Linked DNA regions of Homo sapiens: region 2 is linked to region 1. A link means that fine-mapping ties the variant in region 1 to the expression of a gene that starts in the linked region. Tissue or cell type: whole blood. Region 1 holds a variant in brackets; the other region holds the start of a gene. All regions are shown on one strand. Distances are between the middles of the regions.

The links. PIP is the estimated chance that this variant, and not a neighbour inherited with it, causes the effect.
Region 2: SNX27 starts here. The variant in region 1 is fine-mapped to the expression of SNX27 in whole blood (TOPMed, PIP 0.91).

What each region holds. Positions count from the first base shown.
Region 1 is chr1:151,651,181-151,659,180 of GRCh38, reverse strand. SNX27 (sorting nexin 27) reads right to left here. Exons shown (of 12, transcript NM_001330723.2): 3 at 754-946. Among named protein-coding and RNA genes, the nearest start is that of SNX27, 43 kb to the right of the region's middle. The variant C/T (reference allele first, on the strand shown) is at 4,683.
Region 2 is chr1:151,607,363-151,615,503 of GRCh38, reverse strand. It overlaps SNX27 (sorting nexin 27), which reads right to left and starts at 3,454. Exons shown (of 12, transcript NM_001330723.2): 1 at 2,992-3,454. The coding sequence starts at 3,302. It overlaps LOC124904420 (a long non-coding RNA gene), which reads left to right and starts at 2,136. Exons shown (of 2, transcript XR_007066622.1): 1 at 2,136-2,313; 2 at 3,105-4,987. RefSeq lists a silencer at 3,099-3,538 and an enhancer at 3,579-3,678.

The DNA of each region.
Region 1 (8,000 bases):
TAGATTACCTACAACTCAGCAAACCTATCTATGAATACCTGTAAAATGAATAAAGTTTTCATGTAGGATACAGCAGTAAGCCAAGAATCATTTTAATGAAAATGTCTTAAATATTTAAAATGTCTTAATATTGCCCACTTAGTTCCCAAATCAATTCAGCATATTGCTGAGTCTATATGTGTTTGCTGGCAGATAATATAACCCTAAAAATAAAGGTCCATGTAATCCCAGCACTTTGGGAGGCCGAGGTGGGCGGATCACGAGGTCAAGAGATCGAGACCATCCTGGCCAACATGGTGAAACCCTGTCTCTACTAAAAAATACAAAAATTAGCTGGGCGTGGTGGCATGTGCCTATAGTCCCAGCTACTCAGGAGGCTGAGGCAGGAGAATCACTTGAACCCAGGAGGCAGAGGATGCAGTTGAGCTGAGATCGTGCCACTGCACTCCAGCCTGGCGACAGAGCGAGACTCCGTCTAAAAAAAAAAGTCCATTAGGCATCACCAAATGCATCAAAAACTAAATATTCATTTTTCTGTTGTTGTTAAGCATTCAACAAACCAATGAAACAGGCTACTGATCACTGTACTGGACATTTCAGTTTTGCCTTCAAAGTTCAGATCATTCAATACTTAGTCAGAAACCTGACTTACATTCACTATTGAGGTTCTGGAAATTCAGCTATGCAGTTTAGAAGTTGCATATCTAGAACCTACGTCTACTCAATATAGTAGAGTTTGATGGTTTGGATTACCTTTTTCTAGATATTCTTCCAATCCCCGACGTCGGGCATCTAATTGTTGTTCTGATAATGAAAATGGCCACTTCCCTGGGAGTCGAGGAAATGTAAAGTTGGCAAACTCTCTCTTCAGGTTCTGGTGTAGGATAGCAAACTCCCGGTACCGCTTAGAACACAGCTGCCTCCCTGCCATGTAAACATTATATACCTGGTGAAGGAGAAGAACAAAAGAAAAGCATACTTAATACAAATTAAATCACAAAATCATCTAGTCAGGCTTAGATGATATTGGTTAGATGCATTCTGCTATGCATTTAACAAAGACTATATTCAAGCTCACTTTAAAGTAAGACTTACTTTTGACAAACATGCATAAAGTTATATGCATAAAAAAGGACTACCAAAGGAGCATGATCTTGTTTTTGTTTTTTGGGGTTTTTTTGAGATGGAATCTCACTCTGTTGCCCGGGCTGGAGTGCAGTGGCATGATCTCGGCTCATTGTAACCTCCGCCTCCCGGGTTCAAGCAATTCTCCTGCCTCAGCCTCCTGAATAGCTGGGATTACAGGCATCCGCCACCATACCTGGCTAATTTTTGTATTTTTAGTAGAGAAGGGGTTTCACCATGTTGGCCAGGCTGGTCTCGACCTCTTGACCTCAGGTGATCCACCCACCTTGAACCACCGCACCCAGCAGGAGGAGTGTGATCTTATTTTTGCTATTAAAATGACCTCTAGCATACTTTTAAATATCTTCAAAGGCAATTATCAGTTTTTAAGGTGGATTTTATTTTCAGAAAGTTAAAAGTCATTTGAAGCCAATGTGGTAAATATAGTGAGTCAATAAGCAAGCAAATTTGAAGGGAGCTGAAAACCTAGGGTTGATTATAAAGCAATGTAACTGATACTCGTGTGTGGCCTAAACTGGCTCTAAAGTTGATTCCAAAGAAAAGGCCTAAAAATGATGTAAGCGGCCTGGGCACGGTGGCTCACGTCTGTGATTCCAGCACACTTTGTGAGGCTGACAGGCAGGCAGATTGCTTGAGTCCAAGAGTTCAAGACCAGCCTGGGCAACATGGTGAAACCCTGTCTCTACAAAAAAATACAAAAATGAAGCTGGGCATGGTGGCATGCGCCTGTAGTCCCAGGAGGCTAAGGTGGGAGGATTGTTTGAATCCAGGAGGCAGAGGAAGCAGTGAGCCACGATCCTGCCACTACACTCCAGCCTGGACAATAGAAGGACACACTGTCTCAAAAAAACAAAATGATTTCAGCAACAGTGGAATTTTTGTTAGTTCCTTAAGCAGATAATGTGAAAAGCAAAATAAAAGCTAAGCTAAGATCTTGAAAATAATTTACTTTACACCATATAGTCTCCGCCTCCTCTATTCCACATCCTTATGTCCCTGTTTCTCTGACCGCAAAAAGTTATCATATCCAACCATGTTCATGATTCCCTTGCTTTTCTTTTTATATATTTTTTGCATTTATATATAATCCTTAAATTTTTATTTTTATTCTAATTTTAAAGGATATTTTGGTTTTATAAAAATAGAGTATCAAGATGAATGATACTTCAAAGGACTTACTTTTTTCAGTTAATATTATACTATAGTTTCATCACAACATTATATGTCTTTGTGGTATACTCTGCTGCATACAGCATTTTGTTGTGTGAATATATCATAGTTGCTCGTTTGTTTTTAATCTGTTCTCCCACTCATGAGCACTTGGGTTGTTTCTGGATTTTAGCTACCGTGAATAATGCTGCCATTGACATTTGTATAAATGCCTCCTGCTGTACATGCAAAAGATATTCTTCTGAGTACAACCCTGAGTGAACTGCAGAGTTATATGCATATTCAACCTCAGGAGATAATGCCGAAATGTAAGCTAAAGTGGTTGTACCAATTTATTCTCTTTCAGCAATATATAAAAAGATCCTCTTAATTTTGCCAATGGAATTGGTGTGAAAAGATTTCTGTGATCCTAATTACTAATGATGTTTAATATCTCTTCATATACTTATTGACCATGTGAGTGTCATTTTTTGTAAAGTACCTACTCATGCGTTTTGCCTACCTTCATATTAAGTTTTTTGGCTTTTCTTATTGATTTGATTTATGGAGTTCTTTATATATTGACATAATCTGTTTCATTTGTGTGTATTGTGAATATCTTCTTCCAGTTTGTCACTGGTCTTTTTTTTTTTTTTTTTTTTGAGACGGAGTCTCGCTCTGTCACCCAGGCTAAGAGTGCAGTGGCACGATGTCTGCTCACTGCAAGCTCCGCCCCCCGGGTTCACGCCATTCTCCTGCCTCTGCCTCCCAAGTAGCTGAGACTACAGGCACCCACCACCATGGCCGGCTAATTTTTTGTATTTTTAGTAGAGACGGGGTTTCACCGTGTTAGCCAGGATGGTCTGGATCTCTTGAGCTCGTGATCCACCCGCCTCGGCCTCCCAAAGTGCTGGGATTACAGGTGTGAGACCCGTGTCCGGCCAAGAGCTTTTAATTTTTTGTTTTGTCATTTAAGTCCTTAATCCATCTGGAACTTATTCCTCTATATAATATGAAGTAGAGTTCCACTGGCATTTCTTTTAAAGCCAAGAATATTTAAAATCAACTTTTAATCAAATCATCCCTAAATAAAAAACATTCTCCATTTATAGAACAATCTGTGGACTTCCAGGTGGTAATTAACCTCCCATTAAATACAACCAGAAAACTGGACACAATGTAGGCAACAACTATTTTCAGACACTGGACAACAGGCAGCTAAGAACGGTGATCCCTGAGAAAAGGGAAGCAAACAAGATGATCCCTAACATAATCTCAGCTTTCTGCCTAGAGGTAACTCCTAAACTGCAGCTCAGGGAGGGGTACCCAAACAGAGTTTGGCAACTTCACTGAGTTGAATAAACAGAAACTGAAGTTCGAGGAGGCCAAAGCAGCTACAATTTGCAGGACTAATCATGCAAGAGGGAGCTAAAGCAAGACATAGCTCCAGAAATCTGTATTAAGTTCCCTTGAATTTTGACTGAATAACGATCTAAGGAAAGAACTATTATCAGCCGGGAGCAGTAAATAAACAATTCCCAGAGTTCACACAGGTTATGGAATCATTCAACTTCCCTCCAGCCAGAATAAAGAGACCTCCCTAAATCTGCATGGAATTTAGAAGGGAACTCAAAAAGACCATGCTTTAGGAATGGAGCTAAATTGGTTCTAGAGTAAAAGGTACTCTAAACTACTCAAAAAGAGCTTAAAAACAAAGCTAAAAAGGACCAAAGTAATCTTTAAGTAGCTTAACTGTATGCCAGGAGAAAAAAAAAAATTCCAACACTCTTTAAAGAAATGTAACAAAATCTAGCACCCAATCACACTGCATTCACAATATACAATATCCAATCAAAAATTACTAGACATATAAAAAAGCATGAAAATTTGACCTATGACCAGGATAAAAATTAGTCAGTAGAAACAGGCTCAGAAGTTACCAAGACAAAAGAATCAGTAGACAAGGACATTAAGCAGCTATCATATATTAAGAAGTGGGATTACGAAGTGTATTAAGAAGTGGGATCTTTAAGAGGTAATGGCAAAACTCTCGTGATTAATGTCATTATTGAGGCAGTGGGTTATTTATCTCAGGAGTTTGGGCCCCATTTGCTCTCTGTCTCACATGCACTTCCCCACCAGGGAATGCCTTCCTTCATGTTATAACACAACAGAAAGGCCTTCACCAGATGTGGCCCCTTGATATTAGACTTCTCAGGCTCTAGAACTGTAAGCCAAATCACTTTTCTTTATAAATGACCTACAATCTGTGTTATTCTATTAAAGCAGTGAAAACAGGCTAAGACAGGCAGTAAATCCTCTCATTCAGAGTGCACAGGCAAAGATCCACTTCTTCAGGGGAAGGAGTAAAAGTAAAATACTCTATA[C/T]CCCTGGGGAGAGGCAGGAAACCATATTAGGCCCAGGTTCCTCCACTGTTACCAAGCAGAGGTCGGCTATAGCTGAGGGAGGGACAGGAAACGCTTTCCCAAGACTAACCACAGATACAAGGCCGAGTTTGGCTGCAATAAGAAGGAAGGGCAAAAGAATCAGGACACAGAGACACAGATTCTGCCTAAGACTAAGGGTGAACTACACAACATCTACCTCTACCATGAGTCTAGCCCAAGTAAAAAGCAAGAGTAGTCTACCAGTAGCAGAGGGGTAAGAATGTAAAGAGAGAACTTGTCTGTGGTACTGGTATGCACAGGTGGCTGAAAGCCTGAGGACAAAACACTGAAAAAAACCCTCCAGGGTCGGCCGGGCACGGTGGCTCACGCCTGTAATCCCAGCACTTTGGGAGTCCAAGACGGGTGGATCACGAGGTCAAAAGATCAAGACTATCCCAGCCAACATGCTGAAACTCCATCTCTACTAAAAATACAAAAATTAGCTTGGCGTGGTGGTGTGCGCCTGTAGTCCCAACTACTAGGGAGGATGAGGCAGGAGAATCACTTGAACCCAGGAGGTGGAGGTTGCAGTGAGCCAAGATCGCGCCACTGCACTCCAGCCTGGTGGCAGAGCAAGACTCCATCTCAAAAAAAAAAAAAAACAAAAAAAACTCTCCAGGCTGGGCACAGTGGCTCTTGTCTATAATCCCAGCACTTTGGGAGGCCAAGGCAGGAGGATCACTTGAGCCCAGGATTTTGAGACCAGCCTGAACAAAATAGTGGGACTCTGTCTCTACAAAAAGTAAAAAAAAAATTAGCCAGATGTGATGACGTGTGCTTGTGGTCCCAGCTACTTGGTAGGCTGAAGCAGGAGGAATGCTTAAGCCAGGAAGTCAAGGCTGCAAAGAGCCATTATTGTGCAACTGCACTCCAGTCTGAGTGATAGAAGGAGAGCTTGTCTCAAAAAACAAAAAATAAATAAATTTAAAAACCTTCAGAACCCCAGCCCTCACTCTAAGCACAAGGTAATAGCAACCCATTGCTAGAGAAACTTGAGGCCTATGGCACAGTAAAGGTAATGATAGCTATAACAAAATTCAAGCCCAGCTTAACTGACTACATTCCCTAACAGAAGAGTATTGCCCATTTCCAAGTTGAAACACTATTTACTTCAGTCATCTCTACTATTATTCCACACATGATGCTTGACATTGTTAAATATTACAGAACAAAAATGGAAAACAAACAAACAAACAACAACAACAAAAAAAAAGGCTGGGTGCGGTGGCTCACACCTGTAATCCCAGCATTTTGGGAGGCCAAGGCGGGTGATCACCTGAGATCAGGAGTTCAAGACCAGCCTGACCAACATGGAGAAACCCTGTCTCTACTAAAAATACAAAATTAGCCAGGCATGGTGGCACATGCCTGTAATTCGAGCTACTCAGGAGGCTGAGGCAGGAGAACTGCTTGAACCTGGGAGGCGGAGGTTGCAGTGGGCCAAGATCGAGCCATTGTACTCCAGCTTGGGCAACAAGAGCAAATCTCCATCTCAAAAAAAAAAAAAAAAAGAAACCCAACATTATGTCAAGAGATAAAACAGTCTCAGAGATGACCCAGATGTTGAAATTATCAGGCAGCATATTATTAGAATAACCGTGATTAACAATGCTAAAGATCTCATGCAAAAGGAAAAGGCAGAAAACATGTATGAACAGATACAGAATTTCAGCAGGTGTGAAAATTACAAGCAAATAACAAATGAAAGTGACAGAAATAAAACGCATGGGCTGGGCGCAGTGGCTCACGCCTGTAATTCCAGCACTTTGGGAGGTCGAGGCGGGTGGATCACAACGTCAGGAGTTCGAGACCAGCCTGGCCAATATGGTGAAATGCTGTCTCTACTAAAAAAAAATACAAAAATTAGCCAGGCGTGGTAGCGGCTGCCTGTAGTCCCAGCTACTCGGGAGGCTAAGGCAGGAGAATTGCGTGAACTTGGGAGGCGGAGGTTGCAGTGAGCCGAGATCACACCACTGCACTCCAGCCTAGGTGACAGAGCAAGGCTCCGTCTGAGGAAAAAAAAAAAAAAAAAAAAGGCGTGGTATCAAAAATGAAGAGTTCCTCTAACAGTCTCATCAGCAGACTGGACACAGCTGAGGAAAAAATCAGCAAACTTAATGATAGGTCCATAAAAATTATCTAAAGAGAAAAATTAGATTAAGATTCAGTTTCCTCTCCCTCTCCCTCTCCGTCTCCCTCTCCCTCTCCCTCTCCCTCTCCCTCTCCCTCTCCCCACGGTCTCCCTCTCCCTCTCTTTCCACGGTCTCCCTCTCATGCGGAGCCGAAGCTGGACTGTACTGCTGCCATCTCGGCTCACTGCAACCTCCCTGCCTGATTCTCCTGACTCAGCCTGCCGAGTGCCTGCGATTGCAGGCTCGCGCCGCCACACCTGACTGGTTTTGGTGGAGACGGGGTTTCGCTGTGTTGGCCGAGCTGGTCTCCAGCCCCTAACCGCAAGTGATCCGCCAGCCTCGGCCTCCCCAGGTGCCGGGATTGCAGACGGAGTCTCGTTCACTCAGTGCTCAATGGTGCCCAGGCTGGAGTGCAGTGGCGTGATCTCGGCTCGCTACAACCTCCACCTCCCAGCCGCCTGCCTTGGCCTCCCAAAGTGCCGAGATTGCAGCCTCTGCCCGGCCGCCACCCCGTCTGGGAAGTGAGGAGCGTCTCTGCCTGGCCGCCCATCATCTGGGATGTGAGGAGCCCCTCTGCCTGGCTGCCCAGTCTGGAAAGTGAGGAGCATCTCCGCCCAGCCGCCATCCCATCTAGGAAGTGAGGAGCATCTCTGCCCGGCCACCCATCGTCTGAGATGTGGGGAGCGCCTCTGCCCCGCCGCCCCGTCTGGGATGTGAGGAGCACCTCTGCCTGGCCGCGACCCCGTCTGGGAGGTGAGGAGCATCTCTGCCCGGCCGCCCCGTCTGAGAAGTGAGGAGACCCTCTGCCCGGCAACCGCCTCGTCTGAGAAGTGAGGAGCCCCTCTGCCCGGCAGCCGCCCCATCTGGGAAGTGAGGAGCGTCTCCGCCCGGCAGCCACCCCGTCCGGGAGGGAGGTGGGGGGGGTCAGCCCCCCGCCAGGCCAGCCGCCCCATCCGGGAGGGAGGTGGGGGGGGTCAGCCCCCCGCCCCGCCAGCCGCCCCATCTGGGAGGGAGGTAGGGGGGTCAGCCTCCCGCCAGGCCAGCCGCCCCGTCTGGGAGGGAGGTCGGGGGGTCAGCCCCCCGCCCGGCCAGCCGCCCCGCCCGGGAGGTGAGGGGCGCCTCTGCC
Region 2 (8,141 bases), 44 kb after region 1:
ATTAGCATCAACCTAACCAAGATCGAGACAAGTAGCGGGCACAGATATCCCTCAAGAACCACATCTATTTGGTTGCTGATTTCCCCTCTCACTTGAAACCCTAAAGAGAAGGCGCAGACTATCGAAGAAAGGAAGAAAAAAAAAAAGAAAAGAGAAAGACACTGTATAGTTGGGGTCTCACAGAATGTACCACTAGCTTGGCTTTGGGCTGTAATTATCATTACTTCCCCTATAGTACCAAAGAAGGTTCAGAGAATTTGGAAATCAAAATACAGATAGTTGGAAGAGTGAGAAACCAATGCCAGGAAGATTTCTGATTATCACAACCTTCCAGAGAGGTCTTCTAGGCAGAGTATTCTTTTCCCCTGCCCACTAAAAGTGACAAAGTTCTCTACTTACCACAAAGGATGTGCCAAAAAGTAATGTTTTTTCTCTAGAAGGCAAAGATTTCCCAGCTTCCTAGTCTGGAACCTGAGCCTAAGGCAAGTCCTTCTACCTTTCCTAGGGGATTATCTGAGGTCTCCTTTACAGTTTATACCTAGGCTCTTGGGCAGAAGCCACAATAAAGGCAAGAAGCCACTAACTATGTATGTTGGGATGTGTGCGTGTATCTGCAAAGATAGATCATATTAACTATAGTCTCCTACAGAATTATTCTTTTTGGTTTAGTTCCTTTAGATCCTGTGAAGAGTAAATAATGTAGAACTTCATCATAAATTTATAATTATAAATGCTTTAGTTTTAAATTTAAAAATAAGAAGCTGAGTCCAAAATTAACTTCCAAAGGGAAAGGAAAGTGACAATTCTGAGACCTTCTATTGGAAGAAAACATCAGCCACAAATTTTGAGTTATCTAGAAAGAAAATAATTAGGTGCCCAAGTATAAGAAATCTGAAAGTCATTATTGTAATCCCAGCACTTTGGGAGGCCGAGGCGGGCGGATCACCTGAGGTCAGGAGTTTCAGACCAGCCTGGCCAACATGGTGAAACCCGTCTCTACTAAAAATACAAAATTAGCTGGTCATGATGACACATGCCTGTAATCCCAGCTACTCAGGAGGCTGAGGCAGGAGAATCGCTTGAACCCGGGAGGCGGAGGTTGCAGTGAGCCGAGATCGCGCCACTGCACTCCAGCCTGGGTGACGATCAAAACTCCATCTCAAGGAAAAAAAAAGAATATATTGTCAGACAATACTAGGAATACTAGGAAACAGTATGTAGGACATTAATGAAACAAGAAAGCATCTATTTACAGAAAGGACAGAGGAAAGGTATACTGTCTCCAAACACTGGCCTAGGTGAGCAACTATTTCTTTTTTTTTTTTTCAATCAACTCTCCCAGGTTAAAACCAACCATTTCTTGAGGTGGAAGAGGTGAGGAAACAGAATGAGTGGACACCATGGAGTTAAGAATGTCAAGGATAAGGGTAGATGGCACGAGATGAGTAAGAAGGAATGGATTTCTCTATAAGGCAGATTTTCAAAAAACTATCCCTTTTGCAAACCTACTGTTTTACAAGAGGCAACAGAAGGTTGCGGAAATTACAATTAAAATTTATAAAAAATGAGAACGATTTCAAGTGGGCAAATCGAAATATGGAGGGAGAGAGTAAAAGTGTAAAAAAGGAATGCACAACATAGATTCAGTAAGCAGAAACACAGCACTGAAGACTGCTGAGGAGAACGGAGACAACGCGAGCACACACCACCTGCAAGTCAACCGGCAATCACTATCCGAATTTCAATACGAAGTACAAAAAGGCAAATGTAACACCTAGATTAGGGTAATGGAGGCGGTGTGCACAGAGATTGCAAGACAAGGCAGCATCCCGCAAGAGCATGGAGGGATGTGGTGGGGGAGGCGTATGAAGGGGGAGGGACTGCAGCAGGGGAGAGAGGGTGGGCTGCAGCAGCAGAAGGCGCCTTAAAAAACAGAAGAAAGGAAAAGCAGCCTAGGGGAGGGAAAGACTAGGACAAAGTCAAGTGTGGGATCACAGGAGGATAGAGTAGAAGAGGCAGCAGAGACGGGCATGCCCTAAAAAAGCAAAGCGGTCAAAGACCCAAAAAGGGCTTGAAGTAGTTTTGAAGGAGGAGGAGTTACAAGGGGTCTACCATAAACCTGACTAGGAGGAGGCATGAGTATAGAGCAGGAGTGAAGGCAGGAGGCCAGGGAAGGGATGCTCTCAGAGGGGTGTGCTGATGGAGACGCTAGATTCCAAATTAGGGTGTGATACGGGGCCAACCGAGAAGAGAAACTACGGTGTCAAATCCCACGCCCCCCACCCCAAAGGCATGCAAGGGTCAGAAAGCAAGGTAAACTCTTGGAGTAGAAATACAAAAAGGAGGGGAGGAAAGGGGCACACGGTGGGATGGAAAAATTTAGGGGCAGCGTAACCATGAGGAGAGGGTAACTAAGGAAAGAAAAAGGAGACGAGCGGGGAGGGATGGTGTTTCCGGAGGAAAAGTAGGAGCAGACCAGAGGTCCTGCCTACTTGGTCTGGAGGGCAGAAGGGGCAGTCCACGGGGGCGGAGGGGAGTGGTGGAGAACGAAACTGCGATGCTGAAGATGAGAACTTGGGGGGGACACGGTACTGGCTGGATCAGAAAACGAAACGCCGTCAGTAAGGAGCAGATGAGGTTCCTTCTGAGCAAGACGAGGGGGAGTGAGGAGCAGAATGCAGCACGCCAAACGGGAAGGCAAAGGGGCGGAGAAGAGCCCAGAGTAATCGGGGCACAGGGAGGAGCACTGGGGGCGCAAGGGCATCAGCTGGAGACGACGGGGTGGGAGACCGGCGTCGCAGAAGCCCCGGGGCGGGTGGTGGGAGGGCAGCCCACAAGGAGGGGCCCGGCTGCGGAGGCCTGAGGGGCGGGGGTCCGGAGGCCGGCTCGGAGCTCGGGGGAGGTGCGGCCTGGGGGTGACAAGGGTAGCGAGGAGTGCAGGGGCAGGAGGGGCGCGGGGAGGATGGGGCGGCGGGTAGCCCCGATACTCACACCTCCAGGATGCGGTCCCCCTTGCGCACCCCGGCCCGATCGGCCGCCCCCCCGGGCAGCACGGCGCTCACATGCTGCAGCGGCGCGTACAGCTCCCCGTTGATGCTCCGCAGTTGCCCGCCCTCGCTCACTTGGCCCCGCACGTTGAAGCCGTAGCCGGACTCGGACTTGACGATGCGCACGACCCGCGGGCCGCCGCCTCCCCCGCCGCCGTTCCCGGCGCAGTGGAGCCCAGACCCCCCGCCGCCGCCGCCACCTCCGTTCCTGTGAGGGGCTGAGGGATGAATCCCTTCCCCGTCCTCGTCCGCCATCTTGCGAGCAGGCGAGCCGTACCCCCGCCCCCTACGCCTCCAAGGCCTCCCGGCGCGTGCTCGCCCTGCCTGGCAGCCGGACGACCCCCGACGCGCGCGCCCGATCCGCCGGCCGCGGGACCGACTCGGCCACCGAGCTGCTGGCGCGGGGTGAAGAGGAGGCAGGGGGCGGGCGAAAAGCGGACAATCGGGCACCGTGGGGCCTCCTGGGAGATGTAGTTTATGGGTGGCGGGGGCGGGGAGCGGTCTGGGCCTGGGCCTGAGCCGAGGTTATAAGACGCAGTTCGGAAGCAAGGCCTGCCGGGAGTTGTAGTTTATCTTTCATGCTGGGTTAGGAGTTTGATCTGCTGGGTGGGGAGAGTATAACCCAGCACCCAGCGTGGTAAAATGATTCAGTTCTTGATGCGGACCAAGTTTTTCGCCCCCCCCCCTTTCATTTCATAACCTCTAAAAAACAATAATGTTAGAATAACTTAACGTTTGTGATTCAACACAGTCTTAAATTATATCAACTCATTTTTTGGCACAGTAACTTATATGTTGACCAGGGCCCAACAACCTGTGAGGCAACCGGATCACGATTAGCTTCCCTATTTTACGTTATTAGGAAACAACCTTAGAGTGCTCAAAGTCATCCAGCTACTAAGTATCAGGAACTAAGGCCCAGTTATTGTGCAACTTTCTTGTCCTGTATTGCAACTACAGTCATGTGCCACATAAGGACATTTTGGTCTACAATGGACTGCAAACACGAGGGAGGCCCCCTAAGATGATAATGGAGCTGAAAAATGTCTATCACCTAGTGGCACAGTAGCCACCATAAGGTCATAGCACAAGCATTACTCACATGTTTGGAGTGATGCTGGTGTTAACAAACCTGCACTGCCAGTCATGTGAAAGTATAGCACATATGATTATGTACAGTACATAATACTTGATAATGGTAAGAACTATGTTACTAGTTTATGAATTCACTGTAGTTTTTATCACTATTTTAGAGTGTACTCCTTCTACTTTTTTTTTTAAGTTAACTGTAAAGCAGCCTCAGGCAGGTCCTTCAGAAGGTATTCTAGGTATTCTAAGTATTGTGATTTTTTTCCACGTATTCCAAGTATTGTGTTTTTTTGTTTTGTTTTGTTTTTTTGTTTTTTTTTTTTTTAAGATGGAGTTTCGCTCTTATCGCCCAGGCTGGAATGCAATGGCACGATATCGGCTCACCGCAACCTCTGCCTCCCAGGTTCAAGTGATTCTCCTGCCTCAGCCTCCCAAATCCCTTGCGATTAAACGCATGCGCCACCATGCCTGGCTAATTTTTTGGTATTTTTAGTAGAGACAGGGTTTCACCATGTTGGCCAAGCTGGTCTCGAACTCCTGACCTCAGGTGATCCAACCACCTCAGCCTCCCAAAGTGCTGGGATTACAGGTGTGAGCCACTGTGCCTGGCCCCAGTTATTGTTACCATCAGATGACAGCTCTGTGCATGTTATTACCCATGAAGACCTTCCAGTGAGACAAGAGATGGAGGTGGAAGACAGTGAAATTGATGATCCAGATCTGGTGTAGGCATAGGCTATGTTTGTGTTTAAGTCTTAGTTTTTAACCAAAAAAAAAAGTTTAAAACATAAAATTAAAAATTGCCTTAAATAGAAAAAAAGCTTATGGAATAAAGATATAAAGAAAGAAAATATTTTGTACATCTGTACAATGTGTTTGTGTTTTAAGCTAACTGTTATTACAAAAGAGTCCCCCCAAATTTTTAAAGGCTGGGTGTGGTGGCTCATGCCTGTAATACCAGCACTTTGGGAGACCGAGGTGGGAGGATTCCTTGAGCCCAGGAGTTCAAGACCAAACTGGGCAACATAGTGAGACCCCATCTCAACAAAAAATAAAAAATTAGCTGGTGGCTGAGCGAGACTATATCTAAAAAAAAAAAAAAAGCAGCTGGGCATGATGGCACATACCTGTAGTCCCAGCTACTTAGGAGGTTTAGGTGGGAGGATCGCTTCAGCCTAGGAGGTCAAGGCTGCAGAGAGCTGAGATCACACCACTGTACTCCAGCCTGACCATCAGAGTGAGATCCTGTCTCCAAAAAACAAAGATGAGATCTCACAAAATATGGGATGAGGACTCAAAGTCATTATAATTAGAACATAAAAATTAATATGACCTTATTTTACAACCAAGCTAATGAAGAAGGATCTTGACTAGTTACACAATAAAGTTGATATAAGAGTTTTGCTCCAAAATAATAGTGGCATTTGGATTGAATATGAATAATTTGGTTTGAACTGAGCACTGGATGGGGAAAGCAAGGCATCAGAGAAAGGAAAAAGAAGGGAGCCTCCCCTAAAAGAGTTATTTTTTCATTGGTTTATTAGATAAAAATATACTGAATGCCTACTCTGAATTAGATAAAAATATACTGAATGTCCCCGAAAGGCAACAGGACATGGTCAAACTTACAAATACACATATTCCTCAAACTGAAGGCGATTCCACTTCCAGGAGTTCATTCTACTGTTACACTTGCACATGTGTGAAGTGATGTTTTTATGAAGTTAAGTCATTGCAGCATTGTTTGTATTCACAAAAGACTGAAAACAACCTAATGTTTATTTGTTAAATCATAATGTATCCACAATGGAAAATTGAATCAATGTAAACACAGAATAAGGAAGCTCTGTATGCACTTATATGGAATGATCATATCATCAATACTATATATGATTTGGTGAAAACAAAGTGCAGCACAATCTATACAACATGATACTATTTGTATATAAAACGGGAACCATGGGCCAGGCACGGTGGCTCACGCCTGTAATCCCAACACTTTGGGAGGCCGAGGTGGGTGGATCACCTGAGGTCAGGAGTTTGAGACCAGCCTGGCTAACATGGCGAAACCCCGTCTCCACTAAAAATACAAAAATTAGCCGGGTGTGGTGGTGCACACCTGTAGTCCCAGCTACTCGGGAGGCTGAGGCAGAAGAATCACTTGAACCCGGGAGGTGGAGGTTGCAGTGAGCTGAGATTGTGCCACTGCACTCCAGCCTGGGCAACAGAGCAAGACTCTGTCTCAAAAACAAACAAAACAAAACAAATACAAAAATTAGCCGGGCATAATGGCAGGTGCCTGTATTCATCAGAAGGCTGAGGCAGGAGAATCGCTTGAACCTGGGAGGTGGAGGTTGCAGTGAGCCAAGATCACGCCACTGCACTCCAGCCTGGCGACAGAGCAAGACTCCATCTAAAAAGATAATAATAAAATAAAAGGGAACCATATATATTTTTATATCTTTAGAAGTATTCACAAGAAATTGATAACACTGATTGCTGCTGGGGAGGGAGACTGGATAGCTAGGGTGTCAGAGGCGGGGACAGGGGTAGGAGAGAGACTTTTCACTTTATACCTTTATGTAACTTCTGAATTTTCAGTCACATGAGTGTTGCCTATTCAAAAAATAAATTTAAAAATATTTAGAAAGGATCAGGTTGGAAGAAAAGATGATCAGAGCATTAAAATAACAAAAGAAAATAAGACACCATTACTGCTGGTGAGAATTCACAATCTAGCAGGAGAGAAAACAAAAAACCATTGCAATAGAGCATGATGAGAGCTGTGAGGAGAGTCCTGCACAAGCTGCTAGGATTGCACATCGGAGGGACTTCCACGTATCCAGAGGGAGGAGTTAGGGAAGATGACTCACGAAATGGGAGAGCTGAGCTAAGTGATTACAGATGAGAAGAGTTAGCAATTGCGGCAGAGAAGGATAGTGGTGGAAGGGCATTTCTGACAAAGGAAACAGCATATTCAAACACACAGAGATTTGAAAGAACACAGTACAGTGTGAGACCACACAGTTCAGTAGGACTGGAGCAGAGGAGACAGGAAGTGGACAGGGGAGGTGGGCAAGAGTCAGATCCAGGAGGGCTTAAAATATCGAATATCGGCCGGGCGCTGTGGCTCACGCCTGTAATCCCGGCACTTTGGGAGGCCGAGGTGGGCGGATCACGAGGTCAGGAGATCGAGACCATCCTGGCTAACATGGTGAAACCCCTTCTCTACTAAAAATACAAAAAATAAAAAATAAAAAAATTAGCCGGGCATGGTGGCGGGCACCCGTAGTCCCAGCTACTCGGGAGGCTGAGGCAGGAGAATGGCGTGAACCTAGGAGGCAGAGCTTGCAGTGAGCCGAGATTGCGCCACTGCACTCCAGCCTGGGCAACAGAGCAAGACTCTGTCTCAAAAAAAAAAAAAATCAAATATCATGCCCAGGAGTTTGAATTTCATTCCTTATTAGTGAGGGGCCTCTGATTGCTTTTAAGCAGAGCACAGGCATTCACAAATCTGTGCTTCAAAAAGTTCATGCTGCAGGATGTGTGGAGAATGAAGTCAGATAGAAAGATCAGTTATGAAGCATTTGCAGTGATTCCAGTGGGAATTAATGAGGTGCCAACTAGGGCAGTAGTGGTGGGAATACAAGGAGGGGGATGCACAGGAGAGAAGGGACTTGGTGACCACTAGGATCTCAGGTGCAAAGGTAGGGGAGGAAGGAATGACATAAGATTCCTGACATGGTGATGTGATTCCCCAAGACATGGCATAAAAAGGAAGCGGAAGAGGTTTGCAGGGAAAATTAATTTAATTTGTTTAAATTTGTTTGATTTAAACAAGAAGAAGATTAGTTTAATTTGGGGCCTTTGGGAAAGCCCAGAGGAATTGTCCAACAACTGGTTGAACACATGAGTGTGGACCTGGGGAAAGGAGTCTGGGCCAGAACTTAGATTTGGGAGCCATCAGCCCTGGGTGGTGGTAGATGAGAACCCCAAAACATACTG